Regions from separate parts of the Homo sapiens genome. Here regions 1, 3, 4, 5 and 6 are each linked to region 2. The links come from fine-mapping of genetic effects on gene expression. A gene starts in region 2. Each other region holds a variant in brackets. All regions are shown on one strand. Distances are from middle to middle.

Region 1 (4,089 bases), 33 kb after region 2:
AATCAGATGCCTCCCTTCAGCTTGGGCAGATGAGCAAATCTCACTGCAGTTAATAATGTCTTTAAAATCACTGTTATTCATTCCCAGAAAGGTACCCAGTTAGGTCTTACCAATGCGTGGAGTTCTTAGACATCATTATTTAATAAGTCAATAGCATGAGTTGAACACTGACTCAGTACAGAGTATGTGTTTAGGTTCTATTTTCTTTTTTTTCACGTTTTATTTGTTTATTTTTTTATTATACTTTAAGTTTTAGGGTACACGTGCACAACGTGCAGATTTGTTGCATGTGTATAGATAGGTTCTATTTTCAAAGGAATTGTTAGGTTATTTCCACATGCTAAGAAAAGATGGTTCTCTTCTACCTTTGCCTTTTGTCTGAGACATATGCAGCATTTTCATGATAAAATCCTAGTGGGTTTACTACTCCTTTGGTAAGCTTAGACTTGTGTGTTTCTTTCCTGTGTAGTATTAGTTACTCATCATTTCAAAATTCACTTAACCTTAATTTTCTGGTTTTTACGGACAAAAAGCATCTTCCATTTCTTGTTTAATAATGTGATGGAAGAAGATGGCTGTTATGGTCATATTGCTCCCAAGAGTCTGTGGGAATTCCATCAGTATGTGGTCATTTACCTGTTTTGAATTTTCATTCTGTCCATTAAAATGTATTAATTATTTCAAGTGCTTTTAAAAGAGTCTGATAGCTAAAATGAGAATATGTCCACATACTTAGGTAGAATGGATCTGTTCCTTTTAGTGATAATTTTGGGAGCTCAGTCAGGTGGTATTGGTTGTGATTTGGGGATTTAAACTTTCCACTGGAAGAATACCATTCATTAAGTAGTTGGTGAAGAGAAATGATCTCTGAATTATGAGCCTTGATGTGTTGCTTGTAGGATCACAGAAGTAGATCTGCCCATGGCCTTTATGCATGCATGTATATTATTTCAGTACTTTGTGGTTGTCCTGTTGGAAGTTTGTTTTTAGGAGTTGGCACTACCATATATTTGTGGAGATTCACAAATTCTTCATCTAGAGTAATAATAAGAAAGATTCATACCAGAAAATAGTTTTTTAAAAATAGCATGTCCAGTTTTGAACTCAGTATTTTAACAGTTTCACAATATACAACCAGTTTCTCAGGGACTGACCTGTCAGTCTAAACACACACACATAGAGTATCTGATTTCTGATTTTGACCTTGGATTTTGTCCTTCTCTGGAAGGTGACTTTCTCAGGCAAATAGGATAATAATGCTAAATATTTCCACTTTTAAAAATAAATTTCTTTTGATCCAAAATCATAAGACTTTGGAATTTACAGCAAGTATATTTTTAGGCTATAAATGATTAACAGGATATAAATGTATCTTAAGGTATCTTCACATTGCTTAACATTTTAGCAGCTATGAGTAGGATTATAATCAAAATACATTGCAGTAAATCATTTGTAAATTTGTAAATCATTACTTTCCAATGTTAGGCCATCCCCTATGTTATTTGATTTAAATTTATTTACATTTTAAGGGACACAGAAAAATCTATTCAATCAATCTGTGACTTTGCCCTGAAATTCTTACACTCAAGGTCTGTTTTGCCATGCAAATATTATCCGGGGGGGTTACATTACCTATTATTAGCCATCAATTACTACTTAATATTAGCAAAATATACAAATGAACTAGCCAGTCAGTTTGGGAAAGAAGAAAATACCTGATGCAGCTAGTAAGAGGAGGAACACCAGGGTTTCCTGATGGGATGCTGCAGGATGAACCAGAACAGATAGCAAGATGCTGGGCTTCAGCACAGCCAAGGACACATGGGAGGTGGCACATGATAGTCTGGTCACTGGAGGAATAGCAGTAAGTATTATAAGAGGGAAGAAACTCTGCAGCCGGGTGTTCAATGTGAGCTGGCCACTGAAGGGTTTAAGGAAGATCATGCCTACTTTTTTTTCTCCTTCTTCTCATCATCTTATTTCTACCCATCTCTTTGTGCCATCTTTGCTGATCTTAGGCCCACAGGCTCTCAGATCCTCTCCTTGCCCCGTATGAAAGGGTGCTGATTTCTGTAGGCTATGTTTTCCAGGGTCTGTTCTCGTGTCTTCTAC[T/C]TGGGTTCGGCTAATGTATTGGTTCTCAACTCACCAAGAGAGCTTTTAAAGCTCCTAATGCCCAGGTTGCACCCAGACCAATTACATCAGTCTTTCTAGGGGTGTACCGAGGCATTCAACGTTTTTACAGCTTCCTAGTTGATTCTAGTTTGTGCAGCCAAGGTTGAGAACCACCAGGCTAATGGGAGGCATAGGTAAGGGGAGGATTACAGGAAAGGAGGAGGGGCGGGGGTTGGGGGGAAAGCAGGGCATTTATATTTCTCTTTCCAGCTCATGCAGCATGTTTGTGTAAGATTTGGAGATGGTTCCCTCTAGTCCTCTCTCTGGCCTCTTGTAGTTTACTTATGTACATGTGCTGGTCAGTACTCAGCTGAAGACTCTAGGGAAGCTACAGATCTCTACAGTCCTCTCTCTCTGTAGCTTTCTCCACGTGGGTACTCTGTCCCGCTTCCCAGACTCTCAGCCTTGTCTCCTCAGCTCTAGAGACCTCTGTGAGCTGCTGCGTCTCACCTATGCCCCACCCACTGTGGGTGGCCCTGAGCTCCAACAACATTCTCTCCTCTCTTTATTCTTCTGCCCAAGGCCGTGGAGAGGCTGCCTGTGGTTCTCACAGTGGTCTGGCTTCCCAGCTTTTCTGTCACCTACCTAACCAAGTCCCTGAATTAAGTCAGATTGGTGCCTGCCTCTGATGAGATCCTGATCCACCACTCTTCACTACTTACAAAGACTCCTGATGGCAATTGATACTGTGAAGAAACAGAATACAAATAGAATAACTCAATTATTGATTAAAAAGCAAAAAGATGGTAGACCTTAAATAACTTTTTCCCCATTCTGATTCCTTAAGGGAGGATTAATTCTTCTTTAAAAATGGTTTTTACCACAATAAAAATGTTTTAAAAGATGACTTAATTCTCATAGTAAATTTGGAATTATGAATTCTACATGCTCTAGAGGACCAAGTATTATTCTATATTACTTAAAAATCAAAATCCTAGACATTTGTTCAATTTAGTTGAACAGTTATTTAGGCCCAAAGAGCCTCAGATTAGTAAGATGCAGGGGCTGAATACTAAAGGGAAGCGTGTTGGAAAAAACAGGAGAGACTGAGGCCAGATGGATGCTGGGATCAGTAACCTGAATTTCATCTGGAGGCAGTAGGTAGCCATAGCAAGGTTCAAAGCAGGGAGGACCATAGATTTTCATATGTTCCTCCCTGCTTTGAATGTTGCTATGCAGGGTAACTTTGAAGCCAGGAGCCCACTGAGAAGGTTCTTAAAATAGTCCAAGTAAGAGACGGTACAGGCCTGAACTGCAGCAGTAGCAACAGAAATTGAGGGAAGGAATAGATCTGGGAGGTAAAATTGACAGAATTATTTGGATGTGGAAGTGAGGTAGAGACCCCTACATTTCCAGCTTGGTATGGTAATTCCAAAAATCTAATAGGAAATTCAGAAAGGAGATGTAGAATGGGGTGGGGGTGTGATTGTTTGGTTTGAAATTGAAACATCTAGATGGGGATGTCTAGCAGGCAGTTGACACAATATTGTAAGTCTGAAGCTTATAGGAGAGGTTAGGACGGGATGCAGATTTGCAGCAGTGAAAATCGGGAATGTGGATAAGATCAACAAGGAAATCTTGTCGTCTAAGAAGAGAAATGGGCTGAGGAAAATCAATTATAATTGTCTCCAAGATAGTATTTCAAGTTTCTGATTTATTGAAATGTTGGTCTGTGCTTTATTGCTTAAAGTAAGTATCCTTATGCTTGAGAATATTTTGTGTTATATGGAACTGTCATTATGGTATTACCGTAACCTGTTTCTATATATTGTTTTAGCAGCAATGGACTTTCTGAGCACCCCCCAATATCATCACCTGAGCCAGGAACCCTCTGTGGGTGTTCCTAGGTGGGCCTAAGACATAAGCAAGGGAGAAAAAAAATAAAAGGAACAGGACTTTAAGGATTGTATGGTGGTT
Region 2 (4,089 bases):
GGACTCTTGACCTCCAGAATCGTAAGATAATAAATGTGTGTTTTAATCCACAAAGTTTACGATAACTTGTTACAGCAGCAATAGGTAACTAATACACTGGGCATGGGTATAAGGGTGAAAGGAGCATTGAGAAGAAGGGCCTTGTACAACTGGGTGGATGGCTGTTTGGGACCCCAGAGTCTGGGAACCCAGAAGCAAGAGTGAATGAGGGGCCGGGTGCAGTGGCTCACACCTGTAATCCCAGTACTTTGGGAGGCTGAAGTGGGGGGATCATTTGAGGTCAGGAGTTTGAGACCAGCTTGGCCAACACGGTGAGACCCCATCTCTACTAAAAATACAAAAATTAGCCAGACATGGTGGCACATGCCTGTAATCCCAGCTATTCAGGAGGCTGAGGTAGGAGAATCACTTGAACCCGGGAGGCAGAGGTTGCAGTGAGCTGAGATCACGCCACTGCAATCCGGCCTGGGCGACAGAGTGAGACTCCATCTTAAAAAAAAAAAACGAGTAGGGGAAGAACAGAAGGTAAAGAAACATTGACGTGGCACTTAGTGAGGTTGGGGTGCCTGTGACACATCCCACTGGACAACTGGCCATAAGGATCTGGCCCTCAGGAGAAAAGCTGACCCCGAGAGAGGGCTTTTGGAGCACCCTCAAATATTCTGTGATTGAAGCCAAGGAGTGAGAGAATTCGCAGAAACAAACAGAATCAGAAGAAAGGAAAGCCTAGAACAAAACCCAAGGAAAACTAAAACTCAAGTGGAGCAAAGGGGAGTGGCCAGAGAGGAAGAGGAAAACCCAAGACTTGTGGGTCACAGAAGGCAGAGGAGGGGAGAGTTTCAAGGAGGAAAATCCAACACTTACGGAGCACCAAAAGAAGAGAAGGGAAGAGTTTCAAGGAGGGGACCAGTGTCTCGTGTTCCTGACAGGAGAAAGAAATGCCTGGAGAAAGAAATGATTGAATATCTACGTCAATATTGAAAGTGGATTTAGCATGAGGCTACTATAGTTTAAGCTTCAGAGACCCTTCATAAGCTCAGGAAGGGGCCCTAGAAACTTCGTATTTGTAATTGTTTTATTCTTCCTAAAGAGGGACTCAAAATTCAGAAACTTCAGGGCCTATCAAATTCTTACCAGTATGATTTCACGGTTAAGAGCTTAAAGCCTGGAGACAAAAGAAGCCTGCTTTCCCTTTCGCTGTTTAGTAACTTTGGATGGGTCACATTAACTTTCAGCCTCGGCTTTCCTCAGTTGTAAAATGGGAATAACGTTTCCTACACCTATAGGGTTATAAGGCTCAAAGAGTACCTACACAGTGCCCCGTACATAATCGATGTTTATAAGCGTTAGCTACCATTGTCACTCTTGTCGTTGTTGCCGTTAGCTACCATTGTCACTCTTGTCGTTGTTGCCAGAACAAGACAATAAACTCCTTAAGAACAGGATGTGGCATCCCCCAAAGCCCATCACAGGCACACAGACATACTTGCCAAGTGAATACTCCACTCTCCCCCAACTCTCTGCGTGTTTAACTAGAAATACAACTTTAATTATATTCTTAGTGCGACACACACGGTTGGCTTTTCAGCAAGATGCCAGTAGCAGCTTCCTGAAAAAGGGTGCCTTCGTCTCAGTGTTCCCCCTTCTTGGTGAGCCCCGAAACTCACAGATCGTTTGTCTCCCGCACCCCGCCGGCTCCTCCCTCCCGGGTCAACCTGGGACAGACGCGGAGATAACGCACTGACAGCATTAGCATTGTGTGTGCCACTTAAAAGGCGCTCAAGGAATAAGGGATGTTAGTACATTTTCCCCCACATTTCCTGGCCCGCACTCATTGCCTGGGGGCTCAGCGGAAGTCGCTTGGGGGTGCGGGGGGGTGGAGGGTGCGGTAGGGATGGAGCCTCGCCCAGTGCTTTCGCCTCCTCAGCGTGCTCCCCGGGCCCGGCTGGGTTCAGGTGTCCCTCCGGGCCGCCGGGGCGGGCTGGAGGCCGGGAGCGGGCAGTCGACGCATCCGCCGCCGCCGCAGGAGGCGGAGCGCTGCACCTGGCGGCCGGTCCTCAGCGCCCGGCCCTGAAACGGGTCCAGCCGGTAGTGACCGGCGGCGGCGACTGTGAGGCCGGGGCCGGGGAGGAGGAGGAGCCGCAGCGGGAGAGAAGGTCGCGCCGGCGGGAGCGCTGGGCCCTCCGCCTCCGTCCTCCGTGGCCCCACCCGGTCCGCATCCCTCGCCTCGCCTCGCCGCGCCCCGCCCAGCCCGTCGCAGCCCCGGAGGAGCGCGCGAGCAGCCCGGGATGGTGCGCGCTGCCCCGACAGCCGCCGCCCCGGCGCCCCGAGCCGCCGCCCCGTGCTCCGGGGACAGGGCTCCCCGCGCCCCGCGCAGCTGAGCGCTGCCGCCGCCGCAGCAGGTGAGTCGGGCCCGGCTTGCGGAGAAGGGGCTCGCAGACCCGCCCTGGCCTCCCCCGCCCCGCACGGGCCCAGCCGGAGGGCGGGTAGGCACCTCAGCCGCGCACACCTGCTGCCGGGAAAGGGGCTTCGGGGCCGGGGCTCGGAGCCCAGCGTGCGCCGCTGTCTCCGCTCGGGCCTCGCTCGCCCGCCGCTCCCTCCCTCCCTCCCTCCCCCGGCTTCCGTGTCGGGTGTCATCTTTGTGGGGTGCTGGGGGAGGCTGCCGCCTGCGCCCCCAGCGCGCCCCGTGCTGGCAGCACTTCCGCAAACGTAACTGGAGTCGGGAAAACAAAGGCGCTGCCCAGGGAGCCCTCGCCGGGCGCCCACAGCTGCTGCCGCGGGTGGGGACGGAGGGTGAGCGCCGATGCCCGGGTCCTCCTCCGCCCGGGCCGACCCGCGCCCTCGCCATAAACATCCCTGGGAAAAAGGAGGAGGTGAGAACCTCCACACAGCCCCAGTGACAAGGACGCGGCCACTTGTGTGGCAGGAGGAGGAAATTGACAACGTCTGCCCTCCCAGGTTAATAAATACGGAAAAAAAAATACCTCTGCTCTGCCAGCCACCATCCTAGCAGACATCCCCCACCTCGTGCTTTACTTCCACTTGGTCTAACATGTCTCTGGAGCCCTTTTGAGATACTACTGGGGGTTGCTAGTCTTTCTGGGTCATATTTATTGCCCATAGAGCAATTTTCCTGCAAATTTAGGTAAGATGGTGGAAAAATACAAACGCAACTTTCCCCCTCGTTAATCCCATCCCCACATGGACAGACAGGTGGGTTAATTACCTTTATGCATTCGCAACCACGGACGTTTCTTTTCATCCCAAAAAGATTGAATAAGCACCTCACAGAACTACTGGAACATATAATACCTTGCTTATTAGTGTGCAAAAGACTTAAAGAGTTGGGGTTCTAATCCCAACTGGTATTTAAATAGATGTGTGTGCTTGGGCATGTCACATCTTCCTGAGCCCCAGTTTTCTCACATGGAAAAGAGGATGGTTGGATATTATAGTGGCCAAAATTTCCCCTAATCCTTCTAGAAGTCCATGATTTTCTAGAAATCTAACCTCTTAAGTATAGATGAATGTGAAGGGTGGGTGGACATACAGTTGACTAAAATATGTAATAAAAGGAGATGTGTACTTGGTAGGTCCTTTCCCCAAGATGTGGGCACTAGCCAGCTAAAAGTGTATGCATCTGTTTTAGCCTTGTTAAGTAAAAGGATAGGATCCTCCTCTTTGGGAAGCTTGGCTTTTGACACGTCAAGCTGCTAGCAGAGGTGCAGGATATGGTCAGCTGTTTAGTGATAGTCAGATGGCTTGTATTTATCACGAGGTGTAAGTAAAATTTAGGATTGCTTAGGGGAAGGATGGGACATTGTTAATGAGCCCAGTGCAGGATGCTCTGGGGAAACAGGAGGAGAGAACATCACTTCAATAATGCATTAAAGCTACTAAGTAGTTGTGTGTCCTTCATGTTTACAGCAGTTTATTTCTAAGGCACTTTCCATCTCTATACAAATAAATATAAAAGCGTGAAGGCAAATAAAACACAAAGACAAAAAGCAGAGTTCACAGGTATTTGGTGGTGTGAGTATTGGATCACCAATTCCATCATATATAGTGTCTGGACTATTAACAGTATTA
Region 3 (4,089 bases), 230 kb after region 2:
TATTAAAATAAAAAATGATAAGGCCAGGTACTGTGGTTCACACCTGTAATCCCAGTGACTCAGGAGACTGATAAAGGAGGATCACCTGAGGCCTGGAATACAAGACCACCCTAAACAACAAAGCAAGACCCTGTCTCCACAACAAATTAAAAAATTAGCCAGGCATGGTGGTCACATGCCTATAGTTGTAGCTATTCGGGAGGCTGAGGCAGGAAAATCGCTTGAACCCAGGAGTTTGAGGTTACAGTGAGCTATGATTGTGCCACTTCACTCCAGCCTGGGCAACAAAGCAAGATTCTGTGTCTTAAAAAAAAGAAAAGTATCAAATGTCTGTTGTAAGACTCCAGGTATTTACTATTTCAAACTTTTCTTAAATTTATTTTTAAAAAGTTCAGATGCATAAAATTATAAATAATAATATAATAAACACCCACATACCCAGCATCCATATTAAGAAACAAAACATTACCAATATAACTGAAGTCCTGTAAATTCCATCCTTAATGCACCCCTTTATGCCTCTACCATAGTTAGGCAAATCCTGAACTTGGGGATTAATCTTTCTAAGCATTTATTTTTATTTTAACCATATTACATATGTATTTATAATGTGTGTTTGTTTAATTATTTAAGAATATTCAATTCTGCTATACAAAATAAGAGAAACAAACACATAGGGAGAAAAAAATGAAACTAAGAATTGAAGCAAGTAGCTTATGAAACAAGCAAAATTCCTACAAAATGTAGTAGTGCATTTGCGTAATGAACATAATTAGAAAGAGATGGAAAGAACAAGAAACACCTAATAGTCATGATACATGTGAGGCCCTGAATCATCCAACTTTCATGACGCACTGAAGATACTTAAGGCATATCAGGCATTCCCTATTCAAAAGGTTTTAATCTGGCCAACCGTTGGCTCCTCATATCCTCTGCAAAAGAAATATAAATAAAATCCATAGCTGTTCATGAGGTTAACTGATGAGCTACTGCTGTCAGCTAGACCCACTCTGCTCCCAAGACTTTAGAGCAACTGTGTGTTTTGACCCTAAACACCCGTCTGTTGGGCTGCTTTGGTTAAATCTCAACTCTGATCTTTGCAAGCAAACACTTGGTTAGGAAGGCTGATGTGGCAGGGAGAGACAGGACTGAGGATTCAGGTGTTGTCATCTTTCCACCCTGCCTCCTGTGACACATCTTAAATGTGTTAACCCCCTCCATGTCTTTCACCTAGCTTCTTATGGTGTGTTTTAAATTGATTTAATAAGCCACGTGATTTGAGGATTTTGTTTTGGTCCATAAGCCTTTCTTGTTCTGTGATCCCTTGAATAGCTTGCCTGTTAGTGTACTTACAGGCTACCATTGCAGCAACAATGGTTGTTGTTTCCCACACAACAATAGCATTTGCAAGTTTTTAACCTAGATAGAAATATATTCTACACATTCATCTGCAATCTTTTTTTTAAGAGACAAGAGTCTTGCTCTGTCACCCAGAATGGAGTGCATTGGTGCAGTCATAGCTCACTGCAGCCTACAACTCTTGGGCTCAAGGAATCCTCCCACCTCAGCCTCCTGAGTAGCTAGGACCATGGGCATGTGCCACCAAGGCTTGGCTAATTTTATTTTTTGTAGAGCAGGGCCTTGCTGTGTTGCCCAGGCTGGTCTCAAACTCTTGGCCTCAAGAAGTCTTCCTGCCTTGGCCTCCCAAAGTGCTCCCAATTTACAGGCATGAGCCACTGCGTCTGGTCTTGCAACTTGATTTTTGGTCAACTTGATCAACATCTTGTTTGTGAGATTCTTCCATGGGAGATATGCATATCTATTTCATTCATTTTCAGAGCTATATTCATTGAATATTTCACAATTTACCCATAAATTCTTCTGTTGATCTAATATACATCATTTCCAATTTTTTCTATGCTGCTGTGAATATTCTTGTATGTATCTCCTTGGGCACAGGTAAGAGAGCTTCTCAGAGACTACACCTAGGAGTGCAATTTCTGGGTCACAGAGTATGCACACCTTTAACTTAACTAAATACCACCAAATTGCTCTCCAAAGTGTTTGTACCAATTTATACTCTTAACAGAAGTAAGTTCCTATGTTGTTTGTTTTTTGAGACAGGCTCTCACTCTGCGGCCCAGGCTGGAGTGCAGGGGCATGATTATAGCTCACGGCAGCCTTGGACTCCAGGCTTAAGCAATCCTCCTACTTCAGCCTCCCC[A/T]CTAGGTGGAACCACAGGCGTGTGCCATCATGCCTGGTTAAGTTTTTATTTTTTGTAGAGACGGGATCTCATTATATTGCTCAGGCTAGTTGCTAACTCCTGGACTCAGGTGATCCTCCTGCCTTGGCCTCCCAAAATATTGGAATTAAAGGCAGTTTCTATGTTCTTAATCCTAGCCAACACTTTGTGCTGTCAGACTTTTAAAATTTTTACTGATCTGATGAATGGATGAGCTCTGCTCACAAAGAATCATCTTATGGCATTTCCTTAGTACTTTAATTATGAGGAAAAAAAATCTGTGCAAATTTTGTGTCAGATTTTTGGATTTTCTCATTCTCTGCTTAAGGCCAAGTAAGGTTTCCTCTTTCTATTTCCATCACTGTCAGCAGCAAAGGAAAAACTTTGCAACAAAACTTGTTATATTTTTTTCAGAAGGATTAAAGTTTGGAAGAATACCATATTGGAGGCTTTAAGTCTCAAAAATATCCCTCTGATTATACAGGGGCATAAGAAAATGAATTTAACTGCATCCATGCAAATCAATCATCACTAAGCGTATGTCGTAATGACGGTAGGTCAGTAGTGGAACAACTATGACTCACAGGCTGAGAATGCCCTCATTTAAGAAATTCTACAAAGTTGCTCCCTACCCCAGAATATCTACCCCAGGGGCTTGTTCCATGTCTCAAATTCAGCTACTAAAGTGCTGAAGTCCAAAATTTTCATATTTAAGAAAACTCCAAAAGAAAACACATCTCAAAAATCATATTTAGTACTTATAAGTCATTAGCACCTTATTTGTCACATCTCTTAAAAACACAAAAGGAATGGGACACAGAACCTGCAAGTGCTAATAAGGCATAAGGTGGAGGCCACCCTCAACTTCTTCCTCCCCCTTTATCCAGAACATTCAGACAGACAAATCTCTGTTCTTAGCATCTTGCTTAAATCTTTTCGATGGCTCCCCAAAAGGGCTAGCAGTGTTCTCCAAGTGTGGTCTAGGGGTCCCTTCTGGCTTCAGATCCTTCACTAAGGTAATCATTTAAAAAGTACAGATTTCCCAAGTGCCAGCCCAGGCCTACTTAATCAGTATGTCTGACAGGGAGATCCTGGAATCTGTTTTCAATAAATAATCCAGCTTGATTTTCTTAAAAATACTTTTTCACAATTGAGAAGTATAGTGTACAGTAAGTACAGAAAGCATAAATGTGCAGTTCAATGATTACAAAGTGAACATCCACATAACCATGGTCCAGAACAAGAAAGAGGGCCTTGCTTGCCAGCACTTCAGAAGCCCCCTTGTTCCCCTTTCAATCATTTCTCTCTTCTCTTAGTTGTATCTACTATTCTCATGTCTGACACTCACAGCTTGATTCTTGCACTCACTGGTGCTGAGAACTACAGCTACAAGATAAAGTCCACACTGCTTAGCGTGTCAGAGGTGGCTCCTGCACAATTTGGTCTCTACAATTTCATCTTCTGCCTCTGCCCTCTTCACATGTAATTCTCAAGTCATTTGGAATCAGTTATGCTTCATTTCACAATAATTTCCCTAAGTTACTGCTCATGTTTATGCTGCCTCACTGCCTCTGTGCTTCTGTACTTGCTGGGGAGTGCCTGCACTTCCTGAGTCTATTAATTTCATCCTTCCAGACCTGTCCAATTGTTGCTTGCTTACAAGGCCTACTGACTTTCACCCCTCTGCCCTACCCAAACCAGAACCATCACTCTTTCTTTGTGTGACTAAGAACATCTTATAATGTGTGCAAGTGCTTGTTTACATGTGTATTCCGCTTTCTAGACCAGGAAATAGGGCAGAGATTTAATTTTCTTGTGCTTATAGGCTTAGTGTGTATCCCTCAGTC
Region 4 (4,089 bases), 200 kb after region 2:
GAATAAATGTTGTTGGGTTGAATTCAATGGAATGTATCTGAGGAACAAGAGTTTCACAGTGTCCACCTTCCAGTCTTGCGCTTGTGATTTAAATACTCACTCACAGTTAAGCTAAGGCCGGACCAAAATAGGGAAGATTACAGTTTGTCTTTTCTTTCAGTGGCCTTTTTTTCTAACTTCCTTTTTCCTACTAGTTACAGCCCCTCTCCTCCTTTTAGATTCCCAGTGACCTAAATTTTTCCTGTCCTCTTCCCCAAATCAGGAAGGCTCTGGAAACATCACTTGTGTACCAACTGAAACTCCCAGCTCTGCGGCACACTAGCTGTGATCCTGGCCAAGTTCACTTGTCTGAAATTAGTTCCTCATTTCGAACATGAAAAGTATCGTATCTGCCTCCTAAGGTTGCTGTGAAAGTTCAACAAGAGGCCAGGCATGGTGGCTTACGCCTGTAATCCCAGCACTTTGGGAGGCCAAGGCAGGCAGATCACCTGAGGTCAGGAGTTCAAGACCAGCCTGGCCAACATGGCAAAACCCCGTCTCTACTAAAAATACAAAAATTAGCCGGGTGTGGTGGGGCAGGACTGTAATCCCAGCTACTTGGGAGGCTGAGACAGGAGAATTGCTTGAACCTGGGAGGCAGAGGTTGCAGTGAGCAAGATCGTGCCACTGCACTCCAGCCTGGCGACACAGTGAGACGCTGACTCAAAAAAATAAAAAAGAAAAGAAAATTCAACAAGAAACTCCAAGTAAAGCATTAGCACAATCCCAGGCATATAATAATAGCTCAATTAATTTTTTTTAAAAATGCCTTATTTATACAGATATGCTAATTTTTCCCAATGCATTTACTTTAAGAATTTCTATTTAATTGTGGAGCAAATGACCTCTTATTAAAGAAATCTTATTCAAATAAGACCTACTGGCAGCTTCCTTGGTGCCTGGCTTCCTACCTTGTACCGGGAATGCAGGGAGGAAGACTTGATCCCTGCTCTGGTGTGCTGATCCAGAGTCCTCAGTATAGGTGCTGACATGTGAGGCACTTCCAGGGTTCAGAGTGGAGGCATCTGAACAGCCCATGGCGGGTGCTGAAGGCAAGTTTCCCAAGAAGGGGTTCACGAGGGCTGGAATCAGTCAGAGGAATGTAATCTTGTCAGCGGAAACATGAGCAAGGGAATAGGAGTCAGGGTTTGACAGGAGAGGATAAATGACAAGTCATTTGGTTCAGCTGCAGCTTGGGTATGTGTAGGAGGGAGTCAGAAAGATGAGGCTGGAAGGATAAGCAGGTGGCCAAATCTCAGGGGCAACAGCAAGTGGGTGGTAAGGAGTGGGCTGTGGTTCTTCTAGCCCAGTAAGGCTCAACTGCGTTTGCATACTGGAATCACTGGGAGCTTTTAAAAATACCAAAGCCATGACCCTAGACTATTACACAGGAACTACTATGGGCAGAACTGAAGCATCATTTTTTTTTAAATCCAAAGTGATTCTAATACACAGCCAAGATTGAGAAATGCTACAGTCTAGCCCCTGAAATCACACCAACCCAGATTTGGCTGCCAAGTAACTCAGAGTAATTGTGGACCTTTAGCATGGGCAGGAAACCAAAAGCACATCCAACCTTACTCCTGTATTTTTAAAATTAATTAATTTTTATTGTGGTAAAATTAGACATAACATAAATTTACTATTTTATCCATTTTCAAGAGCACAGTTCAGTGGCATTAAGTACAGTCAGTTGCCGTGCAATCATCACCTCCAGCCATTTCCAGGTAAAATTACAAAGGCTTTTCATTTTGAAGTACAATCTATTTTTCTTTTGTTGACTCATGCTTCTGATAGCATAACCCCTGTATTTTATAGATGTGAACACTCATTCCCTCAGGGTGGGCTTCCCTGGAAACAGACTCTGAGATGAAGACTGGTGTACAGTAGTCACTCCTTATTGGTACTTTTGCTTTCTGCAGTTTTAGTTATCTATGGTAAACTGCAGTCCAAAAATATTAAATAGAAAACACCAGAAATAAATAATAAGTTTTAAATTGTGTGACGTTCTCAGTAGGGTGTAAACTTTCAAGCTGTCCTGCTCTGTCCCACCCAGGATGTGAATCATCCCTTTGTCCCCCGTACCCACGCCGTACACGTTCCCCATCC[G/A]TTAGTCACTTTGTAGCCATCTTGGCTATCAGATTGTTGCAGTATCGCAGTGCTTGTGTTCGAGTAATCCTTATTTTACTTAATAATGGTCCCAATGTGCGAGAGTAGTGATGCTGGCAATTCGTATATGCCAAAGAGAAGCTATAAAGTGCTTCACTTAAGTGAAAAGGTGAAAGTTCTTGACTTAACAAGGAAAGAAAAAAAAATTGCTGAAATTAACAAAATTTATAAGAACAAATCTTTTACCCGTGAATTTGTAAAGAAAAATATATTTGTGCTGGTTACAGCACCTCAAACTGTAAACGTCATGGCCATAGAGTATGATAAGTGCTTAGTTAAGATGAAAAAGGCATTCAGTTTGCAGGTGGGAGACATTAAAAGAAATGTGTTTTGATTGGCAACACGTTGCACCAGAAAGCATTGAGCCTGTATGAAGACAAGCATTGATCCCTACAGCAAGGGATCCCCTGAAACGAGTGACACCAAGCCATTTATTGCAAGTAAGGGATAGTTAACAGATTCAGGAATAGGTTTGGACTGAAAAATATATAAATTACTAGAGAGGCTGTGTCTGCTAATGAAGAAGCTGTTGCCACAGGAATACAGAACAATGGGATATTTTGAAGGAGCGAGAGAGACCACATGCGTATGATTTTACTGTAGTATAATTGTTCTATTTTATTATTAGTTATTATTGTTAATCTGTTAGCTGAACCTTATTAAAAAAATTTTATCAGAGGTACGTATGTATAAAAAGAAAATATATATAGGGTCTGGTACTATCTGCAGCTTTAGGCTCCACTGAAGTTCTTGGAATGTATTCTATGAAGATAAGGGGGACTACTGTATAGAGGGGATTACAGCATGCTCTTGGCATTGTTCCTGAACCAATATGGGGGTTGGGCTGCTATTTCTCGTGGCCCAATAATGAGATGCAGATGAACTGGGGACGAAGAGAGTATTTCTGTAACCAGTTACAGGGAGAAGGCCTGGAAATTATTGCCAGACCAACTCAAAATTACAAAGTTTTCCAGAGCTTATATACCTTCTAAGCTATATGTCTATGTGTAACTGAGTGAATTAATCTAAAGACATAAGTGATTAACTTCTTTTAATCTATAACTAAGGTCTGAGTCCTGAAGACCTTCTAGAGCCTCAGTAAGTTTACTTAATCTAAATGGGTCTAGGTGCTGGGGTGATTACCCTTATCTTGTCTCCTGCTAAATCATGGAGGTTTGGGGAGTTCCTTTAGATCTCAATAAACTTGTTTGTGGAGGCCCGAGGAGTTTCTTCAGACCCCCCAATAAAACTTGTTTAATCCTAAAAGGGTCCTGTTAAGAATTCCTTCATTATCTTGTCAAACTTCAAGGCCCATGAAAAGCCTAGGCAAAACTCTTGGTGGGCTCTTTGTTACATTCCAGCCTTTGTATAAGGGCACTGGCTCAATCAGCTTTTAATGTTTAACCTAGCTACTCAGTCAGAGCTGGGACAGTTGTTGTAATGCAGGCCTGCATTAGTGAGACCTGGCCTGCCACAATCACCACTGTCAATTTGTGCATGATTTCTATCATGCTTGTATATTTATTTATCACAAGATCATAGGGATATGGGGCATCATAATCTTTCTGGCTACTTCCTGCTGAGAGAGGGTCATCATTATGGGGACTGAATGCAGTGCTGGAGTGGAGGTGGTTGATTTGTTCCCTCTATTGGCTCTATTTCGGGGGCCTAGAATAGTATGCAACAGCAACACATATAAAGAGGTTGCTGCTGTTTTCTTCTAAAGTTTAAGTTGTCTAGTCTTAAGTTTGCAGGGCTTTACGAAAGCACAGCTCAGGTTTCAGTGATTTCCAATTAGGAAGAATGGGGGAAAAGGAAAAGAAAAAGGGAAAAATTGAAAACATTATTTTGGAGACCTGTAGCCAAAAAATTAGAATTTAA
Region 5 (4,089 bases), 25 kb before region 2:
TGAACTTCTGATCTCAGGTGATCCACCCGCCTCAGCCTCCCAAAGTGTTGGGATTACAGGCATGGGCCAACGCGCCCAGCCAAAACAGGTTTTATGTATTTATTATTTCTATCTGATACTCAAGGCTAGCCCAAGTTCTGGCTCTAACAAAATGCCTATAATTCTAAATATGATTTTTCTTTTCTAGCCTGTATTTTCAAAGTTCCTCATCTTAAAGGAGCCTTGAACATGTAGGATTAAGAGCTTTCTCCCTTTACCCATTTGCAAAAAGCAAACCAGTCCTGGGCTGGCTATATGGTCTTATGACCTGTGCCGGCTCACAAAGCTCCACCCTCAAAAATGTGCCATGCTTGGTTCTGCTATTGCCATGTTGAAGTTCTTAAAAATTTTACCTTCAAATTCATAAGTTTTGTAAGTGAATGGAGGGGCAATGGAGCATGTGCATGAATGGAGGTGTTACGTAGCTCTGAAAATATTCCAAACACTTTCTGCGTTAAGTGACAGATGTTTTGCTGTGATAAGAACATGGAGCATAGTCCCCTTCCCTGTCAGAATGTTACATCACACTTTTCCAGACCACATATGTGAGTTATTGGCCTCAACGACTAGACTCCAAAACACATATAAACCCAAGATTTTGGCAGACAGATTGAGAGCTCAGGCTGCAACAGGGCTAATCTCTGTCAGCCTTTGAGCTAGCTTTCAAAGCCTCGCCAGCCCACACAGCACTGGCACCACTTGCTAGTGTCCAGGGATCTTACAAGTTGTCTCGGATCTCCCTCACATCCACAGAGGCCTACTTCCATTCTAAGCAACTAAACTGTAATCACTGGACTTGAAATGAAATTATAACTAATTATGTGGATAATGTACCTCATCTGCGGAGTATAATCTCTGCGAGATTTGTTCTTGTTATTTCCCCCCTCTTTGAGCATTAAAAAAAAGAATCTCTTTGTATGGCAATAAACCATGTGATTCCTGAAATCATACTTTGATCATCTTCTTATTGTAGCCATACCAAATAGGAGGAGAAATGTACAAAATGTGTGTGCTTCGTCCCCTTGCAGTTCTGGTCACATAGGGTTCACAGCACCTGTGAGCACAGAATTCTTGTGGACCTATGTTGTATGGGGGTTCAATGAGACTCAAAGCAAGTGCATGGTAAGTGCATTACATTGCTGATGACTGAGCAAGTGGGGGCACTGACAGTTCCCAGAACCAGAACCTGCTTCCAAAGCAAAAACAAGGCAATGGCATTCTAAGAAACAGGAAAACTAAGGAAACCTCCCATGTCCTTTCTTATTTGTGCTATTTTCCTATATTAGCCAATCACATAGGCTGAAATGATGGCACAAAAGGAAAGGTAAAGATAGGACCACACATAGTTCCTTTCCTTTTCAGTTCCTTGCCAGTAAGCTGAAGGTAGGGAGGGCTGGTAGAATGCCGGGGTATCAAGAAGTGAAATAAAAAGAGTTGAGTTAGTTTCCTGCAATGTTTTCACTGTTATGGTAAGAACAATATATATATTCATGTGTGAACTGTGAAAAATGATTTATGTAATTTTGGTGATACCACATATGAGTTAAATACTCTCCAATCTGCATTTAAAACTGGCATTGGGCTGGGCACGGTGGCTCATACCTGTAACCCCAGCACTTTGGGAGGGCGAGGCGGGTGGATCACTTGCAGTCAGGAGTTGGAGACCAGCCTGGTCAACATGGCAAAACCCATCTTTACTAAAAATACAAAATTAGCTGGGCGTGATGGTATATGCCGGTAGTCCCAGCTATTCAGAAGTTTGAAGTGGGAGGATCACTTGAGCCTGGGAGGCAGAGGTTGCAGTGAGTCAACATGGCACCACTGCACTCCAGCCTGGGCGACAGAGCAAGAAGAGAGAGAGAAAAAAAGAAAAATTGGCATTGCATGAGGTAAACATGAATATTAAAGTTCAGACTAATCATTAAAATTGTTATTTTTCTTTATCTATAATGATATCAAACAGCAACAAACAAACACAAAACAACAAAACTCCCAAAACCCAAAAACCATGTCAAGTTGAGAGAGACCATGGAAGAGAGTAAAACTCTTTTTCCTTTATGTGCCTGTAAGGATACTTTTCTCCCTACTTTTTGAACAAGGAGCCCCACATTTTCATTTTA[T/C]ACTAGGTCTCACAAATTATGTAGCCAGCCCCAAATAAGTCCCAGTTCTACTTCTGAATTTACTGTCTTTTGTTCTATCTAAATTTTTGTCATATTTGCTAGTGAGGCCCAAACACAGCCCACTTGCAAGCTAGGCTTGCCCCATCTGAAGGCTCTTTCCAGTTATTTGAAAGCTGAGTTAATAAGGGAACCAGGATGTGCATTAGTACATTTCTCATCTTGTAAGTAAGCAAGTACATTCAGCACATTCTAACACTTGCTGTAAACCTATCAACACTCTCCACCAGGTGTCTCTAGCAGATTTGTGCAGGTGCAGATGCAACATTAAAGGCAAATTGTGGCAAACATCTTGTCTTGGCTAACTTCTTCAATGGGTCACTTTTTAACTGCATCATGTTTTTTTGTTTTTGTTTTTGAGACAGTCTGGCTTTGTCGTCCAGGCTGGAATGCAGTGGCAGGATCCCTGCTCACTGCAATCTCTGCCTCCTGGGTTCAAGTGGTTCTCCTCTGCCTCAGCCTCCCAAGTAGCTAGGACTATAGCCAAGAGCTACCACGCCCGGCTAATTTTTTGTATTTTTAGTAGAGATTGGGTTTCACCAAGTTGACCAGGCTGGTCTGGAACTCCTGAGTTCAGGCAGTCCACCCACGTAGGCTTCCCAAAGTGCAAGGATTATAGGTGTGAGACCGCGCCCGGCATTTTTTTTTTCTTCTTTTTTTTTTTGAGACAGAGTCTCACTCTGTCACCCAGGCTGGAGTGCAGTGGTGTGATCTGGGCTCACTGCAACCTCCACCTCCCAGGTTCAAGTGATTCTCTGCCTCAGCCTCCCGAGTAGCTGGGACTACAGGCACGTGCCACCATGCCCGGCTAATTTTTTGTGTATTTTTAGTAGAGAAGAGGTTTCACCATGTTGGCCAGGATGGTCTCGATCTCTTGACCTTGTGATCTGCCTGCCTCGGCCTCCCAAAATGATGGGACTACACAGGTGTAAGCCACCACGCCCGACCCTTTTTTTTTTTTTTGAGACAAAGTCTTGGTCTGTTGCCCCCGCTAGAGTGCAGTGGTGTGATCTCTGTTGGCTCACTGCAACTGCCACCTCCCAGGTTCAAGTGATTCTCTGCCTCAGCCTCCCGAGTAGCTGGGACTACAGGCACGTGCCACCATGCCCGGCTAATTTTTTGTGTATTTTTAGTAGAGAAGAGGTTTCACCATGTTGGCCAGGATGGTCTCGATCTCTTGACCTTGTGATCTGCCTGCCTCGGCCTCCCAAAATGATGGGACTACACAGGTGTAAGCCACCACGCCCGACCCTTTTTTTTTTTTTTTTGAGACAAAGTCTTGGTCTGTTGCCCACGCTAGAGTGCAGTGGTGTGATCTCTGTTGGCTCACTGCAACTGCCACCTCCCAGGTTCAAGAGACTCTCCTGCTTCAGCCTCCCGTGTAGCTGGAATTACAGGTGCCCACCACCACATCCGGTTAATTTTTGTATTTTTAGTAGAGACGGGGTTTCACCATGTTGGCAAGGCTGGTCTCGAACTCCTGATCTCAAGTGACCCACCCACTTTGGCCTCCCAAAGTGCTGGGATTACAGGCATGAGCCACGGCGCCCAGCTTGCATCATTTTAAATAAACCATCTTCCTTAACCAATTCGTTCCCTTTATTGTGTTTTAAATTGTCATTAAATAATCCTTAAAAAACTGGAAAAATATGGAGAAGTAAAAAGGAGGAGAAAAATCCAACATTCAAGCATAGCTACTGAGAACATTTTAGCCAATGTTCCTAGAATTGTTTTTCTTCTATGAGTAAAAGAATAAAGATTCAAACCACAGAATGGCAGAAGATATTTGTAATACATATCTGATGAAGGACTTGTGTCTAGAAGAATAATTAAATCAATTCAAAAGTTTACAAGAAATAAAGAGCCAATGAAC
Region 6 (4,089 bases), 21 kb after region 2:
TTGCACCTATCTTCACCCATCAGTATTTCTTGGTTCTTCAGCTCCACTCATACTTGTGTTGTTCCTTGGGTACCAAGGTCCATAGCTGGTCTGCCTTTTTTTGTCTATCTTTCAGAGTCTTCTATGTTTACTTTATATATTATTGTCTAGGGTTTTTAGTTGTACTTAGCAGAAGTGATAGAGAAAATTGTGTCTACTCCATCTTCTTGGAAAAGAAGTCTACCACTTTTTTTTTTTCTTTTTTTTTGAGACAGAGTTTCACTCTTGTCACCCAGGCTAGAGTGCAATGGCACAATCTTGGCTCACTGCAATCCCCACCTCCTGGGTTCAAGCGATTCTCCTGTCTCAGCCTCCTGAGTAGCTGGGCTTACAGGTGCCTGCCACCATGCCCAGCTAATTTTTGTATTTTTAGTAGAGATGGGGTTTCACCACGTTGATCAGACTGGTCTCGAACTCCTGACCTCAGGTGATCCACTTGCCTCAGCCTCCCAAAGTGCTGGGATTACAGGCGTGAGCCACTGTGCCCTGCCATGTCTACCACTTTTAATACCATAACTTAGTTTTGCCTGTTTATTATTTTTCCATAAGTGGAATCATGTGTTCAGTGATCTTTTGTTTCCTGCTTCTCTTAGTCCATATTATGTTTGTGAGATTCATCCTTGTCACTGCATGTAGTTGTAGTTTGTTCATTTTTACTGTTGCACAGTATTTCTTTGGATGGAAATACTACAATTTATGTATCTGCTGTAGACAGGTTGCTCCCAGTTTTGAGCCATTAAAATTATTCTGCAGTGAACATGTTTATAGATGTCTTTCGGTGAATATACATATCTTTTGGTTGTCATAGGGTCTTACACTCAGGATTAGTAGCTATTCCCAGTTTTTAAAGTAGTGTATCAATTTACAGTCCCACCAGCAATCTATGAGAGTTCTAGTTGCTCCACATCCTCATCAACATTTGATATTACAGGTTGAGCATCCCTTATTTAAAATGCTTGGGACCAGGAGTATTTTGGATTTAGAATTTTTTCAAATTTTAGAATATTTGTTTTATACTTACCTGTTCAGCCTTCTAAATCCAAAAATCAAAAATGCTACAATGTGCATCTCCTTTGAGTATCATGTTGGCACTCAAACATTTAGAGATGCTTGCTTATTTATTTATTTATTTATTTATTTATTTATTTATTGAGACAGAGTTGCACTCTTTCACCCATGCTGGAGGGCAGTGGTGCTATCTCAGCTCACTGCAACCCTGCTTCCTGGGTTCAAGTGATTCTCCTGCCTCAGCCCCCCGAGTAGCTGGGATTACAGGCATCTGCCACCATGCCTGGCTAATTTTTTTAGTTTTAATAGAGATGGGGTTTTGCCACATTGGCCAGGCTGGTCTTAAACTCCTGGCTTCAAGTGATCCACCTCCCTCGGCCTCTCAAAGTGCTGGGATTACAGGTGTGAGCCACCATGCCCAGCCTCAATCTTTTTTATTTCAGCCATTTTTAGAGTATGTTACATTATTGTATTCTGGTTTTAATGCTTTCACTGGCGATTAATCAAGTTGATCATCTTTTTACATATTTATTGGCCATTTGTATAGGCTCTTTTGTGAGGTGCCTATTCAAGCTTTTTGCTTATTTTTCCTATTGGGTTACCTGATATTTTCCTACTGATTTTTTTCTATTGATTTTAAAGAATAAATTTTTATATATCTGTATAATTCTTTTGTTA[C/CGT]GTGTGTGTGTGTGTGTGTGTGTATACATATATCACCAAAATATCTTCTCTCACTCTTTGACTTGCCATTTCAATCTTTAATGGTAGCTTATGAACAGAAATTCTTTTTTTTTTTTTGAGATGGAGTCTCACTCTGTCGCCCAGCCTGGAGTACAGTGGTGCAATCTCGGCTCACTGCAACCTCCGTCTCCTGGGTTCAAGCGATTCTCCTGCCTCAGCCTCCCAAGCAGCTGGGATTACAGGCACCCACCACCATGCCCAGCTAATTTTTGTATTTTTTTAGTAAAGACGGGGTTTCATCATGTTGGCCAGCCTGGTTTCGAACTCTTGATCTCAGGTGATCCTCCCAAAGTGCTAGGATTACAGGTATGAGCTACTGCACCTAGCCAGAAATTCTTAATTTTAATGTAGTTCAATTATTTTTTCTTCTTTAATGTTTAATATACTCTGTGTCTTATTTAGTAAATATTTTCCTATCTATAAATCTTTAAGATATTTTTCTATGTTTTCTTCTAAAAGCTATGTTATTTAATCTTTGACTTTTAAACCTATAATCTACCTGGAATTCATTTTTGTATATGATGTCAGATACATATATCTGTGTATTGTTGCTCTTGTTCTTTTTTTTTCTTTATTATACTTTAAGTTCTAGGGTACATGTGTACAATGTGCAGATTTGATACATATGTATACATGTGCCATGTTGGTGTGCTGCACCCATTAACTCGTCATTTACATTAGGTATATCTCCTAATGCTATCCCTCCCCCAGCTCCCCACCCCCCAACAGGCCCCAGTGTGTGATGTTCCCTGCCCTATGTCCAAGTGTTCTCATTGTTCAATTTCCACCTATAAGTGAGAACATGTGGTGTTTGGTTTTCTGTCCTTGTGTCAGTTTGCTGAGAATGATGGTTTCCAGCTTCATCCATGTCCCTGCAAAGGACATGAACGCATCCTTTTTATGGCTGCATAGTCCTCATTCTTTTTTTTTTTTTTTTAATTGATCATTCTTGGGTGTTTCTCGCAGAGGGGGATTTGGCAGGGTCATAGGATAGTAGTGGAGGGAAGGTCAGCAGATAAACAAGTGAACAAAGATCTCTGGTTTTCCTAGGCAGAGGACCCTGCGGCCTTCCGCAGTGTTTGTGTCCCTGGGTACTTGAGATTAGGGAGTGGTGATGACTCTTAAGGAGCATGCTGCCTTCAAGCATCTGTTTAACAAAGCACATCTTGCACCGCCCTTAATCCATTTAACCCTGAGTGGACACAGCACATGTTTCAGAGAGCACAGGGTTGGGGGTAAGGTCACAGATCAACAGGATCCCAAGGCAGAAGAATTTTTCTTAGTACAGAACAAAATGAAAAGTCTCCCATGTCTGCTTCTTTCTACACAGACACAGCAACCATCCGATTTCTCAATCTTTTCCCCACCTTTCCCCCTTTTCTATTCCACAAAACCGCCATTGTCATCATGGCCCGTTCTCAATGAGCTGTTGGGTACACTTCCCAGACGGGGTGGTGGCCAGGCAGAGGGGCTCCTCACTTCCCAGAAGGGGCGGCCGGGCGGGCAGAGGCGCCCCCCCCACCTCCCTCCCGGACGGGGCGGCCGGCCGGGCGGGGGCTGACCCCCCACCTCCCTCCCGGACGGGGCGGCTGCCGGGCGGAGACGCTCCTCACTTCCCAGATGGGGTGGCTGCCGGGCGGAGGGGCTCCTCACTTCTCAGACGGGGCGGCTGCTGGGTGAAGGGGCTCCTCACTTCTCAGATGGGGCAGCTGGGCAGAGACGCTCCTCACCTCCCAGACGGGGTCGCGGCCGGGCAGAGGCGCTCCTCACCTCCCAGACGGGGTCGCAGCCGGGCAGAGGCGCTCCTCACATCCCAGACAGGGCGGCGGGGCAGAGGCGCTCCCCACATCTCAGACGATGGGCAGCCAGGCAGAGACGCTCCTCACTTCCCAGATGGGATGGTGGCCGGGAAGAGGCGCTCCTCACTTCCCAGACTGGGCAGCCAGGCAGAGGGGCTCCTCACCTCCCAGAGGATGGGCGGCCAGGCAGAGACGCTCCTCACTTCCCAGACGGGGTGGCGGCCGGGCAGAGGCTGCAATCTCGGCACTTTGGGAGGCCAAGGCAGGCAGCTGGGAGGTGGAGGTTGTAGCGAGCCGAGATCACCCCACTGCACTCCAGCCTGGGCACCATTGATCACTGAGTGAACGAGACTCCGTCTGCAATCCCGGCACCTCTGGAGGCCGAGGCTGGCGGATCACTCGCGATTAGGAGCTGGAGACTAGCCCGGCCAACACAGCGAAACCCCGTCTCCACCAAAAAAATACGAAAACCAGTCAGGTGTGGCGGCGCGCGCCTGCAATCGCA

Direction of the effects. Positions count from the first base shown, and alleles are read on the strand shown. Sizes are in standard deviations (SD) of each study's normalised expression. Not every link is listed here.
In carriers of allele CGT in region 6, the expression in monocytes of the gene that starts at base 2,254 in region 2 tends to be lower than with C alone (moderate effect, 0.68 SD a copy in Quach 2016).

Evidence for each region.
Region 1: its variant is fine-mapped to the expression of MFSD6 in whole blood (TOPMed, PIP above 0.99).
Region 3: its variant is fine-mapped to the expression of MFSD6 in monocytes after LPS (Quach 2016, PIP 0.95).
Region 4: its variant is fine-mapped to the expression of MFSD6 in whole blood (INTERVAL, PIP 0.94).
Region 5: its variant is fine-mapped to the expression of MFSD6 in whole blood (TOPMed, PIP above 0.99).
Region 6: its variant is fine-mapped to the expression of MFSD6 in monocytes (Quach 2016, PIP 0.95).

Annotation. Positions count from the first base shown.
Region 1 is chr2:190,439,145-190,443,233 of GRCh38, forward strand. The region is part of intron 3 of MFSD6 (major facilitator superfamily domain containing 6); the gene reads left to right. It also overlaps a transcript of NEMP2 not described here. Among named protein-coding and RNA genes, the nearest start is that of MFSD6, 33 kb to the left of the region's middle. The variant T/C (reference allele first, on the strand shown) is at 2,113.
Region 2 is chr2:190,406,102-190,410,190 of GRCh38, forward strand. MFSD6 (major facilitator superfamily domain containing 6) reads left to right here and starts at 2,254. Exons shown (of 8, transcript NM_017694.4): 1 at 2,254-2,402. RefSeq lists an enhancer at 1,525-1,574 and a silencer at 1,835-2,874.
Region 3 is chr2:190,633,768-190,637,856 of GRCh38, forward strand. The region is part of intron 4 of NEMP2-DT (NEMP2 divergent transcript); the gene reads left to right. It also overlaps a transcript of NEMP2 not described here. Among named protein-coding and RNA genes, the nearest start is that of NAB1, 13 kb to the right of the region's middle. RefSeq lists enhancers at 3,416-4,089, 3,686-3,755. The variant A/T (reference allele first, on the strand shown) is at 2,225.
Region 4 is chr2:190,606,006-190,610,094 of GRCh38, forward strand. All of the region lies in intron 4 of NEMP2-DT (NEMP2 divergent transcript), which reads left to right. It also overlaps a transcript of NEMP2 not described here. Among named protein-coding and RNA genes, the nearest start is that of NAB1, 41 kb to the right of the region's middle. RefSeq lists an enhancer at 1,585-2,784. The variant G/A (reference allele first, on the strand shown) is at 2,149.
Region 5 is chr2:190,380,611-190,384,699 of GRCh38, forward strand. No RefSeq gene overlaps it. Among named protein-coding and RNA genes, the nearest start is that of MFSD6, 26 kb to the right of the region's middle. The variant T/C (reference allele first, on the strand shown) is at 2,160.
Region 6 is chr2:190,427,502-190,431,590 of GRCh38, forward strand. All of the region lies in intron 2 of MFSD6 (major facilitator superfamily domain containing 6), which reads left to right. It also overlaps a transcript of NEMP2 not described here. Among named protein-coding and RNA genes, the nearest start is that of MFSD6, 21 kb to the left of the region's middle. RefSeq lists a silencer at 1,322-1,521. The variant C/CGT (reference allele first, on the strand shown) is at 1,726.